3 separate regions of the Homo sapiens genome follow, and regions 1 and 3 are each linked to region 2. Evidence: fine-mapped expression QTL. A gene starts in region 2. Each other region holds a variant in brackets. All regions are shown on one strand. Distances are between the middles of the regions. Region 1 overlaps AKAP13 (A-kinase anchoring protein 13). Region 2 holds the start of AKAP13 (A-kinase anchoring protein 13). Region 3 overlaps AKAP13 (A-kinase anchoring protein 13).

Region 1 (8,186 bases), 190 kb after region 2:
ACACGAAGTCAACATGTTCAGAATGTTCTGAGCAAGGGAAGTGGTATTGCTAGGGATAACAGTGGTTTCATAAATGGAAATAGGTTTGGCATTGCTGCTGCTTTTGATTATGGAGTAACATAAAATTGAGGTTTGAAATTTGAAGGTGCCCATTAGACACCCTGGTAAAGACATTCATAAAGTAGTTGGAAGTGTTGGTGCAGAACTAAGAGAGACTTTGAGTCAAGAGAAAGAGATTGTGGGGGTGAATTGGGGCTGTGGGAAAGGATAGATGAAAGAAGAGGACTGAATGCAGAGAATTGATGTGTTCACCTCTAGGAGATGAGGAAGAGGAGCCAGGGAAAACAGTAGATGTATAGGATGGATTTTTGTGGATGGCAAATAAGAATACATTTTAAAAGAAGAATCAGATCAACATATTTTTTTCTTTTCTTTTTTTTTTTTTTTTTTGAGACAGAGTTTCACTCTTGTTGCCTAGGCTGCAGTGCAATGCATCGATCTCGGCTCACTGCAACCTCTGCCTCCCGGGTTCAGGCGATTCTCCTGCCTTAGCCTCCCGAGTTGCTGGGATTACAGGTGCACGCCACTACACCCGGCTAATTTTTGTATTTTTGGTAGAGAGGGGGTTTCGCCATGTTGGCCAGGCTGGCCTTGAACTCCTGACCTCAGGTGATCCAAAGTGCTGGGATTACAACTGTGAGCCACCATGCCCAGCCAGATCAACATTTTTAAATTCTGCAAAACTCAGGGTTGACAGGGATAAAGAAAGGCCACTGGGCCGGGTGTGGTGGCTCACTCGTGTAATCCCAGCACATTGGGAGGCCAAGGCAGGTGGATCACAAGGTCAGGAGATCAAGACCATCCTGGCTAACATGGTGAAACCCCGTTGCTACTAAAAATACCAAAAATTAGCCGGGCATGGTGGCGGGCGCCTGTAGTCCCAGCTACTTGGGAGGCTGAGGCAGGAGAATGGCGTGAACCTGGGAGGCGGAGCTTGCGGTGAGCCGAGATTGTGCCACTGCACTCCAGCTGGGCGACAGAGCGAGACTCCGTCTCAAAAAAAAAAAAAAAAAAAACCACTGGATTTTGATATTTACTTATCACTGGATACCTGTGACAAAGCTTTGGTAGCATTCAGAGTGAGTAGGAGGCCGGGTGTGGTGGCTGACGCCTGTAATCCCAGCACTTTGGGAGGTAGAGAAGGATGGATCACCTGAGTTCAGGAGTTCAAGACCAGCCTGGCCAACATGGCAAAACCCCATCTCTACTAAAAATAGAAAAATTAGCCAAGTGTGGTGGCACACGCCCTGTAATCCCTGCTACTTGGGAGGCGGAGGCAGGAGAATCTCTTGAACCTGGGAGGCAGAGGTTGCAGTTAGCCGAGATCGCGCCACTGCTCTCCAGCCTGGGTGACAGAACGAGACTCTGTCTCAAAAAACAAAAACCAAAGTGAGTAGGAGCCAGACCACAAAGCCTTAAAATGTTGAAATGGCTGGAAAGGAGGTAGAGATGGTGAGACTCCCTGAAGGAAAGAGGAAGAGGAAGACAGAACATGTTTCAGTGCGTTCAGCAGGATTTCTCGATGCCAGCACTACCGAGTTTGGGCCTGATAATTCTTTGTTGTAGGGAGCAGTCCTGTGCTTTGTAGGATCCCCTCCTACTCCTGAGTTGTGACAACCAAAGATGCCTCCAGTTATTGTCAAATGTCCCCTGGGGGCCATATTCCTTGGGTGAGAACTGATCGACAGGGTTGAATAAGGATTCCTACCGCTGGAGTGGGGAAGGAGCTAGTCCAGAAGTGGGTGGAAAACCACAGGCAGCCAGGGGATGATTTACTGAAGCAGGGACCCAAGGAGGGCAGGAAGAAACAGAGCAAAACCTCGGTCTAGAAGAGGTATCCTGAAGTTGGAGAGGGTGGGGAAATGCATTGTTGTTGTTGTTTTTTTTTTTTGTAATGACAGTTGTTTTGGCTTACATTAGATGGCCTCAAGCTTATCACTGAGAAAGGAGAAAAGGTCTTTTGAGAATGAAGTAGGCAAGGTTAATGTTTGGCATTAGAGGAAATTATATAAACTTTAATCCCAGTGGGGGAAGATTAGTGTACAGGTGAGTAAAAGGATTACTGAGCAGCAATGAGGCCTGGCTGAATGGAACTTTTGAAGCAATTATTAAAAAGATTGGTAAAATGTATATCTCAACCACGCTGATACTTTTTATATTTGTGCGTTTTACAGACTAGACTTATGTACTTTTTTTTTACTTTTTATTTTGCTTATTTCACAGGACTTTGTAGATTTCAATGTTATTGAACTTTTATTTCAGTTATTTTTAATGGCTACATAATAGTCTATAGATCTGTTCTTTAATTTACCAATCAGCGCTTCAGTTACTAACTGGTTAGATTGCTTCCAGTTTTTAATGAAGTTGTGCCAAAAGTTGCAGTAAACATTCTTATGCATAGAGTTTTGCGAGATTTTACTAGTGGACCCAGTAAAGGTTTTATACGGTGGTAACACAGAGCAGGAAATGTATTTTCTGAAATGTCACATTAATGAGGCCACCCTTGATCCACCACATTTAAAATTGCAACCTTCATTCCTGCTTTAATCTCTGTAGCACTTGCTATCTTCTAGGTGTTTTACTTATTTATCTTGATTGCTGTTGTCTCCCTTGTTCGACAGAACAGGGATTTTGGTTTGCTTCACCAGTACCTTAAATAGTGCCTGGCACATACATACTTGCTGAATGAATGGATGATGGGACTTACCCAGACCTGTAGGCGAAATGAGTTTGGAAGAGTGTCAGTAGCAACAGATATTCATGGAAGCCAGTGGGAAGATACTTGCAATGACTGATCTTTAGTATCTAGAGGGACAAGGAAGCAACAAAAGTCCCCAGGGACATGAATTGGGAGATTGAAGGGTTAGTACCTGGAGGTAATTGTGACAACAAAAGCACATTCCTCTGGAAGGTGAGAGTGGGAGAGGTAGAAGGTAAGTAGGCTGTGGTTAGAGAAAGGGATTTCCCAAGGTTTAGATATTAGAAATGGAACAGTTTGAGAATTAAATTCTCAAATTTAATTTTGAGAAGGTTGGTAGAATACTCCATTTCATGGAGAATGGACTGTATCACTTTTTAATTGCTCCTGCCTTGGCAAACAGTGTCCTCTAATCTTGTTATATTTGGGTCATGCTCAGTGGTGGTATATAAAGCAGGTTTTGTTTTCAGAGATCTTTTTTGTTGGAATATGGCTGTATGTGATAATCTGATTAAGCAGATATGCCACTAATGTCTGCCACACAATAAGGCATGTTAGTGACTATGTCAATGTAGGCTTGAAAGCTACATTGATAGAGAAGTTGTCTCCCCGCTATTTGACTTCTTGAGTCGTTTCTTTGAACTGTCGAGAGTATTTTACAAGTGCTTTTCTGTTTGAGGTCATTTCACTCAGAGTATAGCAACTTAGTAAAATATGTAAAACATGTAGTATAGCATATGCCATTCTTATTTTAAGCTGCTTTTGGGGAGCCACTCTTGGGTATGGAAGTTGTAATAGTAGTTTTTGGAGTACACTTTATTATTATTACCGTCAGCCAGTACATGATTTTCCATTGCCTTATACGTTTTCCACTGTAGCATTAAAAAAAAAATTTTTTTTTTATTATTACACTGTAAGTTCTGGGATGCATGTGTAGAACGTGCAGGTTTATTACATAGGTATACACGTGCCGTGGAGGTTTGCTGCACCCATCAACCCATCATCTACGTTAGGTATTTCTGCTAATGCTCTCCCTCCCCTAGCCCCCAACCACCTGACCGACCCCGGTGTGTGATGTTCCCCTTCCTGTGTCCATGTGTTCTTATTGTTCAACTCCCACTTATGAGTGAAAACA[T/C]GTGGTGTTTGGTTTTCTGTTCCTGTGTTAGTTTGCTGAGAACGATGGTTTCTAGCTTCATCCATTTCTCTACAAAGGACATGAACTCATCCTTTTTTATGGCTGCTACTGTAGCATATTTTTAGCTTTAAAATTCCAATTAGTCTCAGGTGAATTGTTAATGACAGACAGGTGTGACTTAGTAGAAAAAACTGGAGAGACAGTTGAAGTAATCTTTCTCATATTTTTCAGTGGCTAGATAGCATGTCTGTAATTTCTTAACTCTTTAGTTTCTTCTATTTCAAAACATGATAATGATCTCAAATATAACCTTCCTCCCAAAATCTCAGGGATACTTTACCAATCTATTGTTTGCTTTGGTGGGATTATAATAACTGTGATATAGGTTGGGAGGCCAAGGTGGGTGGATCACCTGAGGTCAGGAGTTCGAGATCAGCCTGGCCAATGTGGCAAAACCCCTGTCTCTACTAAAAATACAAAAAAATTAGCTGGGCGTGGTGGGACGCGCCTGTAATCACAGCTACTCAGGAGGCTGAGGCAGGAGAATCGATGAACCTGGGAGTTAGAGGTTGCATTGAGCCAAGATCGCACCACCGCACTCCAGCCTTGGCGACAGAGCGGGACTCTGTCTCAAAAATAAATAAATAAATAAATAAATAAATATGATATGATATGGGATATTCAAAGGTGTTAATGTTGTAAGGAAAGGAAAAATAACATTTCATATAAGGAGGAAAGGGTTGATGGAAAGCATAATCTATTATTGTGCCTGATCTTTGAGCTGCTAGGCACCTTATCAGAATGCTGTTTGAGGAGTGTTTTCATTATGTTTAAAGCTTTCAGAGAAAGTAGGATTTTCTGATACAAGTAGAAAAATAGAAAAAAGTAGATATGTTTTTCTACTTTTAAGAAGGGAAGGCTTACTAGGAATTATTTTTAAATGAATGAAAGAGTAGAAGGAGGAAGAATAGGCAGTATCCGTGTGTGATTTCTCTGTGTCAAACACCATAGATGTAGTTTTTTATGCACATTTTCTCTAATTCTCAAAACAGTGCTTAGATTATAATATCTGTGTTTGCATATTATGAAATTAAGGCTCAGAAAAGTTAAGAAATTTGTCTAGCATCATATAGTTAGGAGATAAAATTTTGTACCCAGAAATCTCTAACTCTGTATACCACACTGTGTATCAAACTAATGAGAAAGAATAGTGACACCAACGGTTAGGACTTCAGACATTTACATTTGTGCTGAATGTAGAAGAGGGTGCTTAACACTTGAAATGCGTGCTCAAGTACAATAGTTAATAATATGAGATTGTGTGGGGTATGATTGTGTGCCTCATCCCTGTTTATTGTATGCCCCAAGATTCTTTCATCTGCTGCAAAAAAGCACAGTGCAGATTATGTGTGGTATCACAGCAGGCATTACGGGCATGGGTATGCCTTCTGGATGCAAGGGTGGAATTGGAGGTGCTGTAGCCTTTAGAGGAGAAACCCACTTGCCTTGTTCAAATCAGTTGGCGTATAATGGTGGAAAGTTGTTATATTTGTTTATAATGATATGAGTTGAGCAAACTTGCTTGTTTTTTAAATTTTACGAATTTTAACTTTAAGTTCTTGGAACCAAGTGCTTTATTCCAAATAGGATATGATAATTATATTGACAAGTGTTGAACAATATGTCATTGTAACAGTTTTTCTTTGTGTAATTGACTTCAATAATCTTGAGGGTGTTTTCTGCACCTATTGTTAGAAAAGTTGGAGTGCCCTTGTAAGGGTTGGAGTGAGTGGTTCTTCTCTTGCCATTATAATTGACTGTAGTTAGCATATGGTCTAATTTATTTTAAGAGCACCTCTTAATAAGCCTTGATTTTGTTGAAAATCAGGCTAAAACCATCTTCCTTGCACTTCCTCATTACTTGGTTGTTAGCATAATATTAACTATTATTAGATCCCACATATCTCTTTATCTTGATCTAAAGAACATTGTTAGGGCTAGGAGTCCTGCAGTTTTCATTTAACCCATTTGTGATCTCTTGTGAGGAGGATGGAGCTATTGGTTATATGCCTGAATCATTTGGGAGGTATATATACTAATTTTTGCTGTTGAACCTCAAAGAACAATCAGGTTAGAAATACGAAGTAAGACTTAGAACGTTAAGCCTATGCCTGGGAGGCAGAATGTATATATATTAACCAGAGATGCTTGCATGTAGGGAGAATGCTGGAGAACCAGACTCCTGGAGCAGTTTATCCTATGAAATACCGTATGGAGACTGTTCTGTGAGGCATCATCGAGAGTTGGACATCTATACATTAACCTCTGAGTCTGATTCACATCATGAACACCCATTTCCTGGAGACGGTTGCACTGGACCAATTTTTAAACTTATGAACATCCAACAGCAACTAATGGTAAGTCAGAAAGCTTTTATTTTTAAGTATATGCATGTGTATGTGTGTGTTTTGTATGTGTGTGTCCCCGCCCTCCTCCAATGAACCTTGATATAATTAGAACATAAAAATGCTTTCCTGGTGGGAGGCTGAGACGGGCGGATCACGAGGTCAGGAGATGGAGACCATCCTGGCTAACACGGTGAAACCCTGTCTCTACTAAAAATACAAAAAATTGGCCGGCCTGGTGGCGGGCGCCTGTAGTCCCAGCTACTCGGAAGGCTGAGGCAGGAGAATGGCGTGAACCCAGGAGGCGGAGCTTGCAGTGAGCCGAGATCACGCCATTGCACTCTAGCCTGGGCAACAGAGCGAGACTCCGTCTCAAAAAAAAAAAAACTTTCCTGGCCAGGCACAGTGGCTCATGCCTGTAATCCCAGCACTTTGGAAGGGCCAACACAGGTGGATCACTTGAGCTCAGGAGTTTGAGACCAGCCTGGGCAACATGGAGAAACTCTGGCTCTACAGAAGTTAGCTGGGCATGGTGGCGTACGCCTATAGTCCCAGCTACTTGGGGGTCTGAGGCAGGCAGATCATGTGAGCCTGGGAGGCAGAGGTTGCAGTGAGCTGAGATGACACCACTGCACTCCTGCCGGGGTGACAGAGCAAGACCTTGTCTCAAAAACAGAAAAAGAAGGACTTTCCCCAAAGATTCTGAGACCTGTAAAGCAGTATTAGCAGTATTAAATGTTACCACTTACAGATCAGAGCTAGCATTAAGGTTGTAGCCGTAGGGGGACTGAGAGGTTTTTTTCATTGGTTTTGGGAATAATGGAAGACACACATTTCAGGTACAGAAATATGCAACAACTAGAACTAAATTTCTGGCATAAAAGGATATTTGTCTGTGTTTGGCTTAACTTTACAAAATGAAAGAACCAACAGTTTCTGAGATTGTTGCCAAAGAACAAGAACCAAATTTAATCAGGAGTATTTTTACAACTATTTTAGTGGCGATGATATGTACCATTTAAATATAGTGTTACTATATTTAAATCAATAGTTGTATGGTACAAAGATAGCTAAAAAAAACAGAAAAGATTTTATAATCCACTCAAGTCTTCAAGATAAAGTTGTTGCCAGACATAAAAACATTACAGACTCCCTGTTAGCATTTATTACGAATAACATAAACGTCATATGTGTACATCTCTCTTGGGCATAACATCTGAAAGGCTGTGTTTAGGTAATTTTTCCACCCAGTTTATTTCAGAGCTGATTTGATTTGGAAACCACTGGACAGTAATTTCATTTAAGGTCAGCTCAATGCCAGAGGCTTCTTTGGGAGCATGCATTATTTGAGACCAGCAAGCCAAGAAATTCCATAGGGTTATGTGATGCTCCCACTTTTGTGTTTTAGAATTGTGTTTGTTCCAGAGCACGTGACATTTCATTTTCCTCTGAATGGACTTCTAGGCAATCAGGTTTTTCCTTAGAGCTCTTTTTACTAGGTGAATGGTAGTTCACTTGAAAATATAGTTTTGCAGGTACCAAAGCTACCTGCCAAGATATGGAAATGGTTGGCAGGCAAATACGAGAAATTAAAACTGTGGGAACATACATGTGCTACTTTCTTTAGGCAACACTACTTGTTTCGCCAGATTTCTGTTTTATAATGTTTACCATTTATTAAATTTAATGACTTCATTTCCTGATTTTTAGGAGACTGTCGTACTCTCAGCAGGACTGGAAATAAGCTAATTTTGAATACTCTTAAGGAGCCTAACACAGAAGCTTTTAGTGAAAGTCCATTTTGCTTGTACACTCTACTAGAAAGACTTTAACAAGCATGACACATTTTACACTTGTACATATAAACTTTTACAATAGGCTCAGTAGG
Region 2 (8,186 bases):
TTCTAGAAAGGTCATTCTATTATCTGTGCACACACACCCTAGTCTCCTGCACTACCCCACTGTTCTTTATCTGCCTGATTGTCTTCCAAGACCCAGCTTATCTGTCTCATCCTCTTGGATGTCTTTCCTAAACTTTCATCCTTTAACTAGGAGAAATACTCCTCTCTGTTCCCCATAACACCCTCCATTGGCCTCTTTAAAGGCACCTACACATTTGATTTCTTCCTGGTTTGCCTGCCTTCAATTGACTGTGAGTTTCTTAAAGACAGTAACCTCTTCTTCACCTATAACCCCAGGACCATGACTAATGCCTGGAACACAGTAAACTCTCAATAGACATTTGTCAGGGAATTGGCCAGGGATCATCAGCTCATGGGTGGTGTGGCAATTAGAACTCTTCTGGATGCAAGTGACAGAAACCTCCACTGTGCCAGGCTTTATTGGCCTACAGGATTGAAAAGTCTACATTGCCGGATTCAGCAGTTCAACTAGTGTCACTAAGACACTGTTTTTCTTCATCTCTGTTTACTTCCCGTTGTTCCAGTTCCATTCTAAAGGTTCTTTCTTTGTGGTGACAAGATGGCTGACAGGTATATCCTTCCAGATTCCATTTAAGGGAGACAAATATTCCAGTCAAACAAGACCCTAGTTCCAGCAGAGTAGTCTGGAAGTAGTCACCGTTGCCCGTGGATAGGATACATCAGGAGAGTCAGGTCTGGATTCCACGCTGAGGCCATGGAATTGGGGCTGTGGTAGAGCTGGCTTCACACCAAGCAAGGAGCTGAGAGTGGAAGCTCTCAAAGCATGATCAGGACACTATTTCTATCACAAATGCAATACAATGTCCACTGCTGTGAAGGAACACTGGGATATACTTGTTCCAGTGCTTCTATTATCAAAGTGGACAGGTTAGACAGTGTGAGCTTCAAGAGAAATTTATGCTCTTTTAACTGTGTTAATTTTGTTTTTTCTTTGCTTTGGCATTGCCAGGAACTCTCTGTAAAATGGGATTTATTCTTGTTATATTTTTAGGTATTATATAGAACCTGTGTAAATCAGTTGGGAAGATATATAAGTCAATGGAGAGATAGTTCAGAGATACAAAACCCCACCACTGTTTAGTAAGGCATCTTTCCTGGCTTGCGAACTTACTGAGAGTACATGAGGAAATGATTAAACCTGCAACCTCTTTCTGTGAAATATGGCATACTATGTAGAAATATTTGGTACACCTTGGAAGAACAAGTCTTTAGTATCAGGGACACTCAGTTTGAAGGCTCCTTGTAATAGCTTCTTCTGTACAAGTTCACTAATGTGAAATTCATTGAGTCCATACTGTGAACCAGACACTATTAGAGGGGCAGGAGAGAGGGGGTAAACACAGCATACTTCAAGGAGCTTACATTATAGTGGGAGGAGCCAATAAACACACAAGATAAATAAGGTACTTTCAGATTGAGATAAATGCTATGGAAAAAACTGAGTAATACGCAAGAGAGGGACTAGATTAGAGTGGGTCAATTTAGGGAGGGTGGCCAAGGAAGGTTTCTCTGAGGAGGATCATTTGAGCTGAGGCCTGAATGATGAGACGACATCAGCCATGCAGATAACAATTTAGGAATTCCCAAGGAGGACAGAGGGCTCAACCGTTTGGGGAATTTAGGGTAGACTCCTGCCTTCAAAGTTGGGTTTCAGGCTGGGCATGGTGGTTCATGCCTGTAATCCCAGCACTTTGGGAGGCCGAGGCGGGCAGATCGCCTAAGGTCAGGAGTTCAAGGCCAGCCTGGCCAATATGGTGACACTCTGTCTCTACCAAAAATACAAAAACTAGCTGGGTGTGGTGGTGTGAACCTGTAATCCTAGCTACTTGGGGGGCTGAGGCAGGATAATCGCTTGAACCGGGGAGGCGGAGGTTTCAGTGAGCCGAGATCATGACACTGCATTCCAGCCTGGACAATAGAGTGAGACTCTGTCTTAAAAAAAAAAAAAAAAAAAAAAGTCGGGTTTCAAAATAGCTACGTCAGTAGCACCTGGGAGCTTTTTAGAAATGCGGAATCCCAGATGCCACCCCAGACTTACTGAATCAGAATCCACATTTAACAAACACTCCCAGGTGATTTGTAAGCACAGTAAATTCAAGAAGTGCTAGACTCTTAACTTTTCCTGCAGCCCACTGGAAAGGTGTAAATCCTGCTGAGGCGGGGAGCAGGGAACGGTGTTGTCAGTGTCCGTAGAAAGATGACATGGTAACATTTACTGCTGCCTCTGAAACAAACAAGCTAGGTTCTAAGGGGGAAGTTCACTGGGTTATCAAATGTTAGGGTCCAAGTGATTTTCTTGGTTAGCACTCTTGCTTCACAGAAGACTCAGGTTCTTTGAGAAGTGACCGGCTCATGATAGGCTGCTTCTCTCTCTGTGCCAGCCTTTTTTTTTTTTTTTTTGAGATAGGGTCTGGCTCTGTCACCCAGGCTGGGGTACAGTGGCATGATTTGGCTCACTGCAACCTCTGCCTCCTGGGCTCAAGCAATCCTTCCACCTGAGCCTCCCAAGTAGCTAAGATTTGGGCTACCATGCTTGGCTAATTTTTGTATTTGTTAGTACAGATGGCGTTTCAATTGATGCCCAGGCTGGTCTCGAACTCCTGGGCTCGAGCAATCTGCCCTCCTCAGCCTCCCAAAGTGCTGGGATTACAGGTGTGAGCCACCGCGCCAGGCCTTGTGCCAGTTTTTAAAAATCAACAAGGACAGATTAGAGAACAGTGGAAGAGGGTGAGCAGCATGATGAAGTGATACAGAAATAATTTCACATGAAGAACTGGGCATGTTTGGCCTTTCTTTTCTTTTCTTTTTTTTTTTTTAAAGCCATTCGGTGAGGGTTACTTAAGAAAATAGGGCCGGGTGCGGTGGCTCATGCCTGTAATCCCGGCAATTTGGGAGGCCGAGGTGGGTGGAGCACCTGAGGTCAGGAGTTTGAGACCAGCCTGGCCAACATGGTGAAACACTGTCTCTACTAAAAATAAAAAAATTAGCCGGGTGTGGTGGTGGGTACCTGTAATCCCAGCTACTTGGGAGGCTGAGGCAGGAGAATCGCTTGAACCCTGGAGGTGGAGGTTACAGTGAGCTGAGATTGCACCATTGCACTCCAGCCTGGGCAACAAGAGTGAAACTCTGCCTCAAAAAAAAAAAAAAAAAAAAAAAGAAAAAAGAAAAAAAGAGAAAATATATGTGAGCACCAGAGCTCAACATTAGGAGCATTTCTGAGATTTGGAGCTATTCAACAATGGAAGTTCCTGGCACACACATCAGGTATTCACAATACCCTTTCTCAGGTGTTTGGTCACTGCTAGTGAGCCGCCTGGATCAGTGTTTCCCAAATGGCAGTCATTTGCATCTTTGCTTTTCTTTTGGGGGCGGGGGGGTAATATCCTGTACCAGATTTTTGAAAACTGACATTAAAAATACATGTTTAAAATGTGCAAAGTGCACTAAAGTGCACTGGATGTATTTTTTATTCATGTATATACTTTTGTTATCTATCACCCAGGTCAAAATACAGAACCAGCACCCCAGAGGGTTCCCTCCTCCTCCTTCCCAGCCAATAATCTTCTCCTCCTACCTAACCGCTGTTCTTACTTCAATCACTATCAACTAGTTTTACACGTTCTTCAACTGCATATAAATTGTCTCAGTTTTTTACTTAACACTTTTCTTGAAGTGCTTTCGTTTTTTGCCACTTTTTATTTGACCTAAGAAATAACATTAATGAAACAGTGGTTTGACGTGATAGGCATTTCCCTCCTAATGCGCACTAAAAACACTTAACTATTTGAAAAAAGAAGTTTCTTCGTGTACCAACTAATATATTCTCCGCCCTGTCTCCAGAAACCGCCCTTCCTCTGTGGGCCGGTGGTTACCGGCACCATTGGTACACGGACCACATTTTGTTTCCCAAAGCAACCAGATGATTTTTGAGGTCCTTTGCAGCTCGAACACGGAATGACTTTGTGGTGATCGAGTAGCCAGAAGTTCACGGAATGCACTGTCACAATTGTGATTCCGCCATAGCGCCGTGCATCCATCCAACACTTGTTTAATACCTATATTTAATACCTAATACCTTAGACGGTCCTAGGCTGTGGACACAGAAGACTAAACCCCACTTCCTGAGTTGAAGTGGGGGAAATAGAGGAGTAAATCATTTCACGATGTGTGGTTAAGTGCTGCAGCTCAGGTAACCACCAGTACACAGAGGAAGGGCGGTTTCTGGAGACAGGGCGGAGAGGAGACCGTGGGTGGGCATTTCCCAGAGCAGCCTCTGCCAGCCACCCTACTTTGATCACTTTGCCGCCGAGCAGCAGCGGCGGTCAACCTCAGCCTCCCTTAGCAACCTGAGTGCCCCGTCCAGGAGCCTTACTATTGGTCTCATGCAGCGAGATGGGCAGTTCTGCCGTGCAATCCCAGCTCGCAGTTCTTGCTCCGCGTGTACTCACGGGAGGACTCGCAGGCGTTACCGCCTTCCCGCGTGCCCCGCCCACCCTCCCGAGCGTCTTTCGGCGCATGCGCGGACTGGAGCTGTGTGCAGGGCCAGCGCGGAGCCCGAGCAGCCGCGGTGAAGCGCCTGTGCTCTGCCGAGACTGCCGTGCCCATTGCTCGCCTCGGTCGCCGCCGCTTTAGCCGCCTCCGGGGGAGCGGCCGCCTATTGTCTTTCTCCGCGGCGAAGGTGAAGAGTTGTCCCAGCTCGGCCCGCGGGGGAGCCCCGGGAGCCGCACGGTGAGAGCGCAACTTAGTTGGCGGAGTTGGGGGAAGTTTTGTGATTTGTGGGTCGGGGCGCGGAGCGCGGCCAGTCCCCTGCGGTTGCTCGGTGGGGCGGGCCCCGGAGGAGGGGCGGGGGCTGCGGGGGTTTCGGGGGCGGGCTGGACAGACGGGTCGCCGGGCGGCGCCGGGACCTCAGGTCTGCGGACCCCTCCTCCCTGCGCATCGCCCTTCTCCCGCATTGTCTGCTTGGGGCTCGGCGCGCCTCCCACTCCGCAGCCCAACTTAGAGGCCGTCGCCGCTTTCCGGGTGGGGGGCGCGCCCGGCCGCCGATGCTACCTCAGGCGCTCCGCCCCCAGCGAGGCCCCGAATCCTTGCCCCGGGTCCCCGGGTCGGCGCCGCCGGGGCGGGCTCACTCCTCCCCTGGGGCGGGCGGCCGCGGTGTGGAGTCCCCGCCGTGGAGTCCGCGCCGTGAACAAGTGCTGCGGGCGCGAGGGAGCGGCTCCCCGGGGTCGACGCGGACGGTAAACACGTCGGGCCGCGCCTGCCTGTCGGTGCCTCTCCGCGGCTTCTCGGGGGTGCGGCCCAGCTGACCCGCGCGGGTCGCAGGCGAGCGGCCCAGGAGACCCGTGCGGTCCCCACGCGCTCTGGGACCCGTGCAGCCAGCCGGCTCAGCTTGCAGCTATACTTTGATACCAAACAAAACTTTTTTTTTTTTTTTTGGTAAATACGGTTTACTGCTTTTTTTTTTTTTTTTTTTTTGCAAAGCCACGAAGTATGTGAAGTTGAAAAAAGGAAAAACCCTAAAACTTTTTAAAAAAAAATCAAGAAAGGGGGTAGATAGGTTTGTTTTGTTTTGGAAATAGTTCTTATAGCAGAGTGATACCGTCCCATTTAATTTTCTAGATCCCGGAATTCACAATGAAAATTGGATTGAGCGGTATTTTGGTGTTCATTCTTTGCTAATGACACTCCTTAATGAAGTTATTTGGAGAGTTTATTGCTTCAGTACAGTAAAAACCAGTGTGCCTTTTTTTTTGTTAGTAGTCCCCCCCACAACAAGTGTTTTATTTTTAGAAGAAGCATTTTCTTCAGTTTTTCTGAACTGTTGGATTGCGCAGATGAGGACAAACGGTGCAGTTCTTGAAAGGTCATTATTGGCAAGTTTGTGAAGAAGCTAAGATCAGTTGAGATAAATCATTGTTACTATTCTTGTATTCTGTCGTGGACTCTTGGGGATTTGCAGGCTGCATTAAGTACAAGTTTTGTCAAGTTTGGGTGCACATATTACACTTAATTTGGTTTGTGTGGCTTATTATATGAACATGATTCTGTTTCAGTTCCCCAGATGGAACTAGCTTAAATGTCTGTCATTCATAGTGGAGCAAAATGGCCAGAGTGTCATTTATTGTTAACTTCAGTTGTATTCCTTTACCATCTGCTAAATGAAAAAGAAAAATTTGAGAAATACTGTGTGTGTCAGTTTGCTCAGAGTGATTTCTCGTGCTAAGTGAGTCCTGTGGAGAAGCGTTCCTGGGCTTTTCTGGTTTGGTGGGCCTTGTGTTATAAAACCAATTTTCTTCACCTGATGAAGCTAAAGACAAATTTTCTTCAGGTACAGCCATTGCACTTTTAAATTACAGAGCCGCTTTTAGGATTCACAGTACTCGCTCCATGGCTTCCCTTCCTGGTTGTGTGGTTTTGTGTGTGTGATTGTGGGGAAGGAGGTTGACAGAGGTTGGAAGGGATTGTCAGGGAGGGACATAATGTAAGCAAGTACTACTTACAACATGACGTGACGAGTGCACTAGTTGCTTTCCTTCTCTGGGCGGTGATGGCATGTTATACTGTAGGTACTATTGTTTTAGGATTTCTCACACTTCTTTTGCCTTGACTAAATGGTAACTGCACACATACTATACTATAAATGGACTCCTCCTCTAGTCCTTTAACTCCTTGAGGGCTGTGATAGACCTTATTTAGCTTTTTACCCTCTTTGCCGGTAGTCTTAACATAGTGCAGGCACGGTACGTGTTTGAATTGGGTAAATTATTTTTACTGCCTAGTGGTAGCTAGCGTACACAGGAGAGAGCCACTAACTGGGGACCTGTCCAGAATGACAGTTCACTTGCAGATCTGTGATGACATTTACTTTAAAAGGATTTCTAACCTTTTTTTAATCTGTCAATTATTTTTTGAAAAGAAGTGGGTTTAACTAGCGCTCTAAGGATTTCAACAAGAGGTTCCAATTTAGAAATCAGCCCCCCCCTTTTTGTGAAATTATTATTGTTTTTTTTTAGAGTCGGAATCTTCACTGTTGCCCAGTTGTCTCTAACTCCTGGACCCAAGCCATCCTCCCACCTCAGCCTCCCACAGTGTTGGAATTACAGACGTGAGCCACTCCACCCAGCCAGTGAAATTATTAAAATTGTTGGACAAATCTAGTCACAACTCTCCCTCCATTGTGAAATTGGAAAAAAATTAGAAATTTTAGAAAAAAGTACACCCTTTGGAACTAGGTAGCGTTCAGATCTCCACACTTCCATTGACTAGTTGCATAGCCTCTCAGAGCTTCAGTTTCCTACTCCATAAGCGTTAGTAACAGTGTTCTTAGGAATCAGTGAAACTATGTGAGGTACTTAACTACAGTATCTAACATGGAGTAGGCAGCTATTACCTAGTAGCTGTAATGATAATAATTTTGGTACATTTTTACATGACTTAAGCATTCTTAAAAGTCTGATGCTTCTGAGTGTAGAGGTTTAGCTATTTCTTTCATAAAGAAGGGGCCTTGAGACTTGTGAGTCTTATCGAAGTCTATTTCTTCAAAGGTGCCAGATGAACTGAAGGATAATGGAAACAATAGCGAGTTTATCTTCTCAGTCACCTGTGAGTCTTCCTTTGAGAGTGGGACTTGCAGAGTGGCTTGGTAGGGTAGAGCTCTTTGTGACTATGCTATTTGGGCAACAGTGAGAGATGGATTGTTTTCAGTACATCAGTCATAAGAGGATATGAGTTCCAACTTTATTTTACCTTAGTCTTGGCAAATAAGTGTGGATTGTGTCTGTATTTCTCAAACTTGTTTAAGGTAGAGCTGGACTGGGTGTTAACAGTGTTAGTTCAGTACAGAGACATGAGCAAATCACTCACTTCCTCTTCAAGATAACACTTTAAAGGTGACACCATTTACAGAAGAAGGCAGTGATTTAAATCAGTTATACTAGCATAGTTTAGAATACTTACACTACCTAGATGGAGTAGATACATTCTAGAAATATTTACCTGTTAAGGACATTTCTTTAGATTTTATTCCATCTTTCCATTAGTTTTCTGATGAAGAGATTATAGTAAACCTTTAAAAATTATATTTGATCAAACTTACAGATTGAGGATAAACCTTTAAAAATTACAGTTGGTCACACTTACAGATTGAGG
Region 3 (8,186 bases), 160 kb after region 2:
GTAGTAAAATAAAATCAAGTAATTATGTACTTTTCCAAGTGCTTCATCATGTGAGCCTTTGTATCGTGATAATAAAGCAAGTGCTAGTGAATCTGTAAAATTCTTGCTATATAACTTGTATGAGTGATATTTTTTCCTGTTATGTTTTCAGATCTAATTTAGTTCAGTAGCTATTGGACTTTCCATCATATGCTATGCCTTGAAGGTCCTTCAGCTTTCATTCTTAAATATGTTCAAATTGAATAGCCCTTGTTGACATTCAGAGCCTGTTCGGTTCCAGATACCATGTTATAGGCATGGTGAAAGCTGGGATACAAAGTTTTTTGTTTTTTGTTAAGGGAATTCATATTTGCAAATAATGTTAAAAGCTGAAAATGGAGTTTTAAGAAGTTTGGAAAAATGCTGTCAGAGCTCAAGAGGAAGGAGGGGGTGTTTTTTAGGAGGAGAAATTTGTATGTCGTGAAATAAGAGCTAAGAGGATCCACTAGCGTCCTTTCAGCAGTGAGGCTCTAATACTGTTTTATTTGCTGCCTGTGTTTCCTTTAGGTCATGATTGTTGTGAAACAGTGAAGGTGCAGCTCTGTGCTTCCAAAGAGGGCCTTCCCGTGTTTGTGGTGGCTGAAGAAGACTTTCATTTCGTCCAGGATGAAGCGTATGATGCAGCTCAATTCCTAGCAACCAGTGCTGGAAATCAGCAGGCTTTGAACTTTACCCGTTTTCTTGACCAGTCAGGACCCCCATCTGGGGATGTGAATTCCCTTGATAAGAAGTTGGTGCTGGCATTCAGGCACCTGAAGCTGCCCACGGAGTGGAATGTATTGGGGACAGATCAGAGTTTGCATGGTGAGAATTTATATGATCTACAAACACACTTTAAGTTTGTGATATTTCTACTTTTTTTTTAATGGGGCTACTTTTCTATGGTCATCATATTCAGGTCTTCCACAGAGGCTGCGTAAATCTTAGAATTACTGTAGGAAAGTGGCCTCAATGGCATCTCTTCTAGGTTCTTCAATTGAGCTGTTAAGCATGTTGTTGCAGCGAAATGACCCTAGGGATTACCCAAGGAGAGTGGCACGTCACCTTCCTGTGGGTCTGGATTTCAGATTTGATCTCTCAAGTGTAGAAAGTGACATGCTCTTCATGAGGAGAGTAGCAGAGTTACTTTTTGGTGTTTAATGATCAAAGACATGGTTTTCATTATTGTATTCTGAAGTTCTCTAAAGATAGCCTGGAAGTGAAGGAGAGGAAAGATTGGGCAGTGAGTGGGAGGAGCATGAGAACAGGGTGTGCTCTGAGAAACCACACACTTCCTTAACCAGGTTAGTGTCACTCTTACTGACTTTATCTGTTGGCCCTCCCTATGAGAGTTCACTGAAGAAAGGACTTTTTGTTTGTTTTTTGTTTTTTTTTGAGAACGGGCTTTCACTCTTGTAGTCCAGGCTGGAGTGCAGTGGCATGATCTCGGCTCACTGCAGCCTCCACCTCCTGGGTTCAGGTGATTCTGCTGCCTCAGCCTCCCAAATAGCTGGGATTACAGGCATGTACCACCATGCCTAGCAAATTTTTTTTTTTTTTTAATTAGAGACAGGGTTTCACCGTGTTAGTCAGGCTGGTCTCGAACTCCTGACCTCAGGTAATCTACCCACCTCGGCCTCCCAAAGTGCTGGGATTATAGGCATGAGCCACTGCGCCCGGCCAGAACTCCACTTTTTCAAAAATATTTACATAGTAAGTCCTCTTACTCAAACAAGGGTTTTCCCACATAATTCTAGTAGCCAATGACATCTACTTGATGTCATAATTGTATAGATATTTTTTAATGAAACATAATGTGTACCTGGAGTTCAATAAGTAACATCCAGTTTCCCTTCTGAGTTCAAGTCCAATTGAACGATTTGGGAGTCCTGAGATAGAAACCAAAATGTTTATTACTGATGAAATCTAGATTGGAAGCCTGATGTTAGAGCTCCTGCCAGAAGGGTCTGCTTGTACTTTCTATGTCTTCAATGAAAGAGCTGGTCAGTCACACCATTGCCCTGTAGAGTCCACCCAGCCTTGAGTATTGAATTATTTTGGGTAAGCAGACCACAAGTCACTCTCCCCACAGGTGAGCAGTTCCTGAGGAGAAATACCCAGAGGGGCCTGAGCCATAGCATAGTTAGTTTCTACACTCAGATGAATTTTGTCTTCTTCCATGGAAGAATGGTAAAGAGGTCTTTGCCAGCTTTGATTCTCTTAAATCTACACTAAATTTAACAGTTAAACCTGTGGTCAGCCGTCAGAACGGTGTCCCATACTGTCAGGTGCATACTGTCAGATTCTACCTGGATAGTCCTGCCCAGGTAAAACCTGAAAGGAAGTATCAAATCAAGGAAGAAAGGATTTATCCTTTTCTTCTTCTTTTTTTAAGTATAGTGTCCAAGAAACTTCTGTCTTGCTAATATTTAGAGATCAGAATATTTGACATTCTGAAAAGGCACTCATGCCTTATATAAACCTGGTGATGGGCCTTAATACCTCTAGCTCCTCCTATTTCTGTATTGATACAGGAATGTTTATTCTGGCTGCCTTTCACAAATCAGTGTCAAGATAGTACTGCATTAGTTATTTGTGGGGCTTATGGTGTTTTATGGTTTTGTTTTGTCTTGTTTAAAGAGGGGCCCAGGAGTTGGATAGTTTTATGTTGCCATGATTAAAAACAACTATTAGAAAAAGCAAACATCTGAAACTTTGGACATATCACTTCCTCTTTCTCTCTCTTTTTTTTTTTTTTTTTTGAGATAGAGTCTTGCTCTGTCGCCCAGGCTGGAGTGCAATGGTGCAATCTCGGCTCACTGCAACCTCCATCTCCTGGGTTGAAGCGATTCTCCTGCCTTAGCCTCCCAAGTAGCTGGGAATACAGGCACATGCCACCACACCCTGCTGCTTTTTTGTGTGTTTTAGTAGAGACGGGGTTTCACCATGTTGCCCAGGCTGGTCTTGAACTCCTGAGCTCAGGCAATCCACCCGCCTCAGCCTCCCAAAGTGCTAGGATTACAGGCGTGAGCCACTGTGCCCGGCCACTTCCTCTCTTTGGGCCTTAACTTCCTTGTCTTTAATAGGAGGGAATTGGCCAGCTTTAATTTTTTTTTGTACTGTCAG[TGTACTG/T]GTAAATTTTCTGTTGCACAAAATTGCTCAAGCAGTGCTAACAAAGGCCAAACCAAATTTGAACACTTGAGGAAGGAAATACATATTAAAACCACAATGAGATATCATTACACATTTATCATAATGGCTAAGATGAAGAATACCAAGTGCTGGCAAAGATGAAGAACATATCATATGTTGCTTGTAGGAATGCAAAATGTATAACCACTCTAGAAATATTTGGCAGTTTCTTGTAAAGTTAAACATACACTTAGCGTATGACCCAGTAATCCCACTTTTGGGTGTTTATCCTAGAGAAATGAAAATCTGTAGTCACCAAAAAGTCTGTGCACGGACGTGCTCATAGTAATGTTATTCATAATCTTCAAAAACTGGAAATAACCCAGATTTCCCTCACTGAGTGAATACAGAAGCAAACTATAATATATCCATACAGTGGAATACTACTCAGCAATAAAAAGAAGCAAACTGTTGACATGTGCAACAACTTGGATGTGTTTTAAATGCATTATGCGGGAAAATGAAGTCAGTTTCCAAAGGTTCCATACTATGTGATTCTATTTATATGATATTCTGGAAGATGCAAAATTATAGAAAAAGAGAACAGATGAGTAGTTGCTAGGGGCTGGGAGTGGGGGAAGTCTGACTGGAAAGAGGTATCATGAGGGAATTCTTTGGGTTGTTGGAGTTGTTTTGTCTTGTTCGTGGTGGTGGCTGTAAGAATCTATGCATGTGTTAAAACTCATAGGAGTGTACATCCCCTAAAGGTGAATTTTATTGTACATATATTTAAAATAATAAAATAACAAAAGAAATTGTGTAAGTTGTATACTTTGCAAGGTGAAATGCATGCAAGTGACTTGATAGAAGTGTCTTTAAGTCAACAACTGGGATGAGGAATCTGATTTTCTGTGCTCAGTTCACATTCTGCAGTTTAAATTGTTCTATTAATTGATGATTAGAATCTGGGAACACTGGGTACAGTAAGGGAGAGAAGCATCAGTTAAGAGTTCATCACGCCTGCTGTTGAGGGACAAATGTAATGGAATAGTCTGTTCACATCAATGAGTTGCACATAAATACTTTTAAATAGGTATTTAAAGGAGAAAGGTACAAAGTAACCATGATGCCTGAGGTAATACAGGTAAATAAGGCACCTTGTTACATAACAGGACTTCTTGCTGTTGAAAGCTAGGATGTTTAGAGATATTCTAGCCTAATACTTAGACAAAGTAGTTTATGTAAGATTTATGGCTAATCCTCCTACTGTTTTAATTGTTTAGTTGCAGTGCTTTTTAGCTTTCTTCAGGTCAGTGACTCCTTTGGAAATTGCTCAGATTTCTCCTCAGAAAAAAATGTTTATAGGTGCCTATGTGCACACATTTACATATGATAAATTTCTTAAGTCTCCCTGAACTTCAGGCATGAGCATAAAGTTAAGAATTCTGGGTTTAACTTTGCTCTTACAAAGTGGGAAAAGCAGGGGCATTGGAGTCAGTTTGTTTGCATCCTGGCTTCATTGCAAGAGTTTGTGCAAAATACTCAATCTCTCTGTTACTTAATTTCCTCATCTGTGAAATGGGGGAAAGTGTATTCTGATAATGTGTGCTAGTTTATAAGCTATTCATTTTGAATGTACCATTTGGAGACACAAAACATTGATGTTTTACTTGTTACAAAAATTAATCTTCACTTTAAATATGAACAGGAGGGAGTTTGTCCTTTTAAATCTTCCAAATGTTCTCTCATCCCTAATTATATAAACAAGCTTCTACACATTGTACTGTTTGCCACAGTTCTGCCTTAAATGCAGGTGATAAGGATTCATCTGGGTGTGGCGTGAATGGTGGGGTAAGGACATTTTTTTCTCTGAGTTTTCCAAGTCTCACTTAGTTTCTCAGCTCGGTGGTTAGTGAAAATGGTAAGCTAGGGGGGTGTTTTCCCTGAGAGACCCTTGTGCAGTAGCCGTCAGCATAACTCCCAGGTAATGTAGGGTGGGCCCACTGCAGACTTGCTCTAGAGGAAGCAGGGAGAAACATCCTGGGGGAATCTTCATTCTTATTTACTCATGATATTGTATAACCAAGTGAAAAAGAGATCTGATCATCTTTGGGGGCAAGAATTCTCCCCTCAAAGAGAAATTTGGGTGGAGAGGTGGAAGACAGGTTTAGGAAAAACTGCAGTAAGAACAGCCTGTGTATTCCCAATTCTATACATCTGATATTGGTTAATAGGTCGCCCACCATAATCATTTGATGATTCAGTTCCCACCTCCTTTCAGAGTGTTTGATAGCTTTTCTTTCTTTTTTTTTTTTTTTTTGAGACGGAGTCTCGCTCTGTCGCCCAGGCTGGAGTGCAGTGGTGTGATCTCAGCTCACTGCAAGCTCCGCCTCCCAGGTTCATGCCATTCTCCTGCCTCAGCCTCCCGAGTAGCCGGGACTACAGACGCCCGCCACCACGCCCAGCTAATTTTTTATATTTTTAGTAGAGACGGGGTTTCACTGTGTTAGCCAGGATGGTCTCGATCTCCTGACCTCGTGATCCTCCCGCCTCGGCCTCCCAAAGTGCTGGGATTACAGGCTTGAGCCACCGCGCCCGGCCTTGATAGCTTTTCATAAATATTTTTTCGTAGCTACATTAGTGTTTGTGTATTTTTTTTTTTTGAGGGAGTCTTGCTCTGTCCCCCAGGCTAGAGTGCAGTGGTGCGATCTCAGCTCACTGCAAGCTCTGCCTCCCAGGTTCACACCATTCTCCTGCCTCAGCCTCTTGAGTAGCTGGGACTACAGGTGCCCGCCACCACGCCAGGCTAATTTTTTGTATTTTTTGGTAGAGACGGGGTTTCACCATGTTAGCCAGGATGGTCTCGATCTCCTGATCTCATGATCCTCCCGCCTCGGCCTCCCAAAGTGCTGGGTTACAGGCATGAGCCACTGTGCCTGGCCTGTGTTTGTGTATTTTTTCAGCTGTCATCACTGCTGAAAAGAAAATAACAACATATTTTAAAACTGCTAGTGGTTTTTTTTTCCCCTTGGCAGAAGATTAATATTTATTGATCCCAAGACTAGTAGTGGTAGGACTTGAGCTCCAAAAGGTTTTGTTGCCTCTGAAACCTTGTTTTTGTTACAAGGTTACAGGTCTCATTTTTCCACAACTGCATTTTCTCACAGTGGCCTGTTCTCCTTCCTTTCACATGCAGCTGAGAATTCCTGCATCATGTGGGACTTTAGGTTTTTTAAGAGGTAGTCCAGAATAGTACAAAGAATGGTGATTTTGGAATCATAGGTATAGATTCAAAGAGTACTGTAAGCTGGGCTTGCTGGGGGGATTGATGGGGTAGGAGAGTAGTCCTTGATTATTGTACTGATCTCAGAACTTAGAACATTTTACTTAGAGAATCTGACCATTTATAAAAGATACAACCCTCTAGCAGGCTCATCATGCTTGAATGCCTACTAGGCACATCAACTTTTTTGCAGATCTGAGGGAAGGTGTGTGACAGGTGTGTCCAGCATATAAGTAAATAGAAAGCAGGATGTGAGACATTTTCTGCCTTCCTTCTCTGTGGGTAGAGGCTAAGCCTACAGAGATCTTTCCAATTAAGTATGGTTAAACAGGATAACCAGCCAACATGGGGTCTATGGAATAACATTACAGCATAAAGAAAAGGGAAAAGTATCATAAGTATTCAGATGGAAGATTTTCTGAGTATGCTTTCTGTAAGAAACAAAAAAATGTAGATGATATTTCCCATTTGCCCTTTAAAGAGCTCAATAAAATCAGGTTTATTATGAAATTAGAGAAGGAGACAGCAAGGAGAAAAGTAGGTTTTATGAGTCAGTGTTCAAGTAGAGAAGCAGAACCACTAAGAGAAATAATATGTTGAGATTTATTACAAGGAATGGCGCCTTTGATTGTGAGGGCTAATAAGTCCAAAATTTGTAGGGCAGGAGGGGGAGGGAAGATCATGGGCAAAAGTCAGTCCACCAACATGGGCCAAAATATCACGTGAGGAAGGGAAGATCGTGGGCAGGATGGAGCTCCACAGGCACAGGCTAGTGCTGTCCTCCACAGGTGGAATGGAATCCCTTCTCTCCAGGGGAAATCTAAGACCTGCTTTCAGAGCCTTCCAGTTGATGCAGTGGGATTATCCTGCCCACATAATCCAGGATAACCTCCCTTATTAGATCAACTGGTTAGGGGCTTTAATTACATCTGCGGCAAAGCTATTATTATGACGACAAGGATGGAAGGGGAGTGAGTTGGCAAAAATGATGCAGCCATCCACAATCCTAAAGCACAGTTAATTCACACTGGGGACAAAGGACTCAGTTGACACTGTAGGAAAGGCCATTAGTGATCTAAAAAAATGAAGTTGAGTAACTCAGATTACAGAGGAGTACTGATGCAGAGAAAAGGGAACAGAGATTGATCCTAAATGATTGAGCTCTGCAGTTTAAACACAAAAGGAAGAAAGCAGTGATGGAAGCTTTCATGCTCTTAAAACAACACAGACTAAAGGAAACTAAATTCATATATTCGTTTATCCCTTTGCACCTTGGCCTCTTCTACAAACCTAATTCACATGACCCCTGAATCAAATAAAAATGTGTGAGAAATTAATGGGAGAATACCTAAAACTGGGGGTATATGCATGCGGTGGACTACTCAGCAGTAAAAGAGAATGTACTACTGCTACATGCAGCAATGTAGATGAATCTCAAACATGCTCATCGAAGAAGCCTTACACAAGAGTGTATATTCTATAATTTCATCTATATGGAGTTGTAGAACAGGCAAAACTAATGTAGGTGAAAAATTCAGAACAATGGTTAACTCTGAATGAGGAGGAGAGGATTAACTGGAAAGTGGCACAAAAGAACTTTTTTGGATATTGGTAATTTTCTATATGTTGGTACAGATTTGGGTTCACGTGTATATGCATTTGTCAAAATTTATCAAATGGGTATACTATACCATATGTATTTCATTGTATATAAATCACCTAAAATTGTAACTACATATTGAATGCTAGTTAA

What was found. PIP is the estimated chance that this variant, and not a neighbour inherited with it, causes the effect.
Region 1: its variant is fine-mapped to the expression of AKAP13 in lung (TOPMed, PIP 0.95).
Region 3: its variant is fine-mapped to the expression of AKAP13 in whole blood (GTEx, PIP above 0.99).

What each region holds. Positions count from the first base shown.
Region 1 is chr15:85,569,020-85,577,205 of GRCh38, forward strand. AKAP13 (A-kinase anchoring protein 13) reads left to right here. Exons shown (of 37, transcript NM_007200.5): 6 at 6,112-6,310. Among named protein-coding and RNA genes, the nearest start is that of LINC02883, 190 kb to the right of the region's middle. The variant T/C (reference allele first, on the strand shown) is at 3,894.
Region 2 is chr15:85,376,030-85,384,215 of GRCh38, forward strand. AKAP13 (A-kinase anchoring protein 13) reads left to right here and starts at 4,574. Exons shown (of 37, transcript NM_007200.5): 1 at 4,574-4,769. It overlaps MIR7706 (microRNA 7706), which reads left to right and starts at 4,567; the gene lies at 4,567-4,633. LOC124903546 (a long non-coding RNA gene) reads right to left here. Exons shown (of 3, transcript XR_007064747.1): 1 at 8,178-8,186; 2 at 8,034-8,081; 3 at 7,647-7,706. RefSeq lists silencers at 4,425-4,504, 4,885-5,454, 5,111-5,278.
Region 3 is chr15:85,533,038-85,541,223 of GRCh38, forward strand. AKAP13 (A-kinase anchoring protein 13) reads left to right here. Exons shown (of 37, transcript NM_007200.5): 4 at 547-843. Among named protein-coding and RNA genes, the nearest start is that of AKAP13, 160 kb to the left of the region's middle. RefSeq lists an enhancer at 993-1,072. The variant TGTACTG/T (reference allele first, on the strand shown) is at 3,145.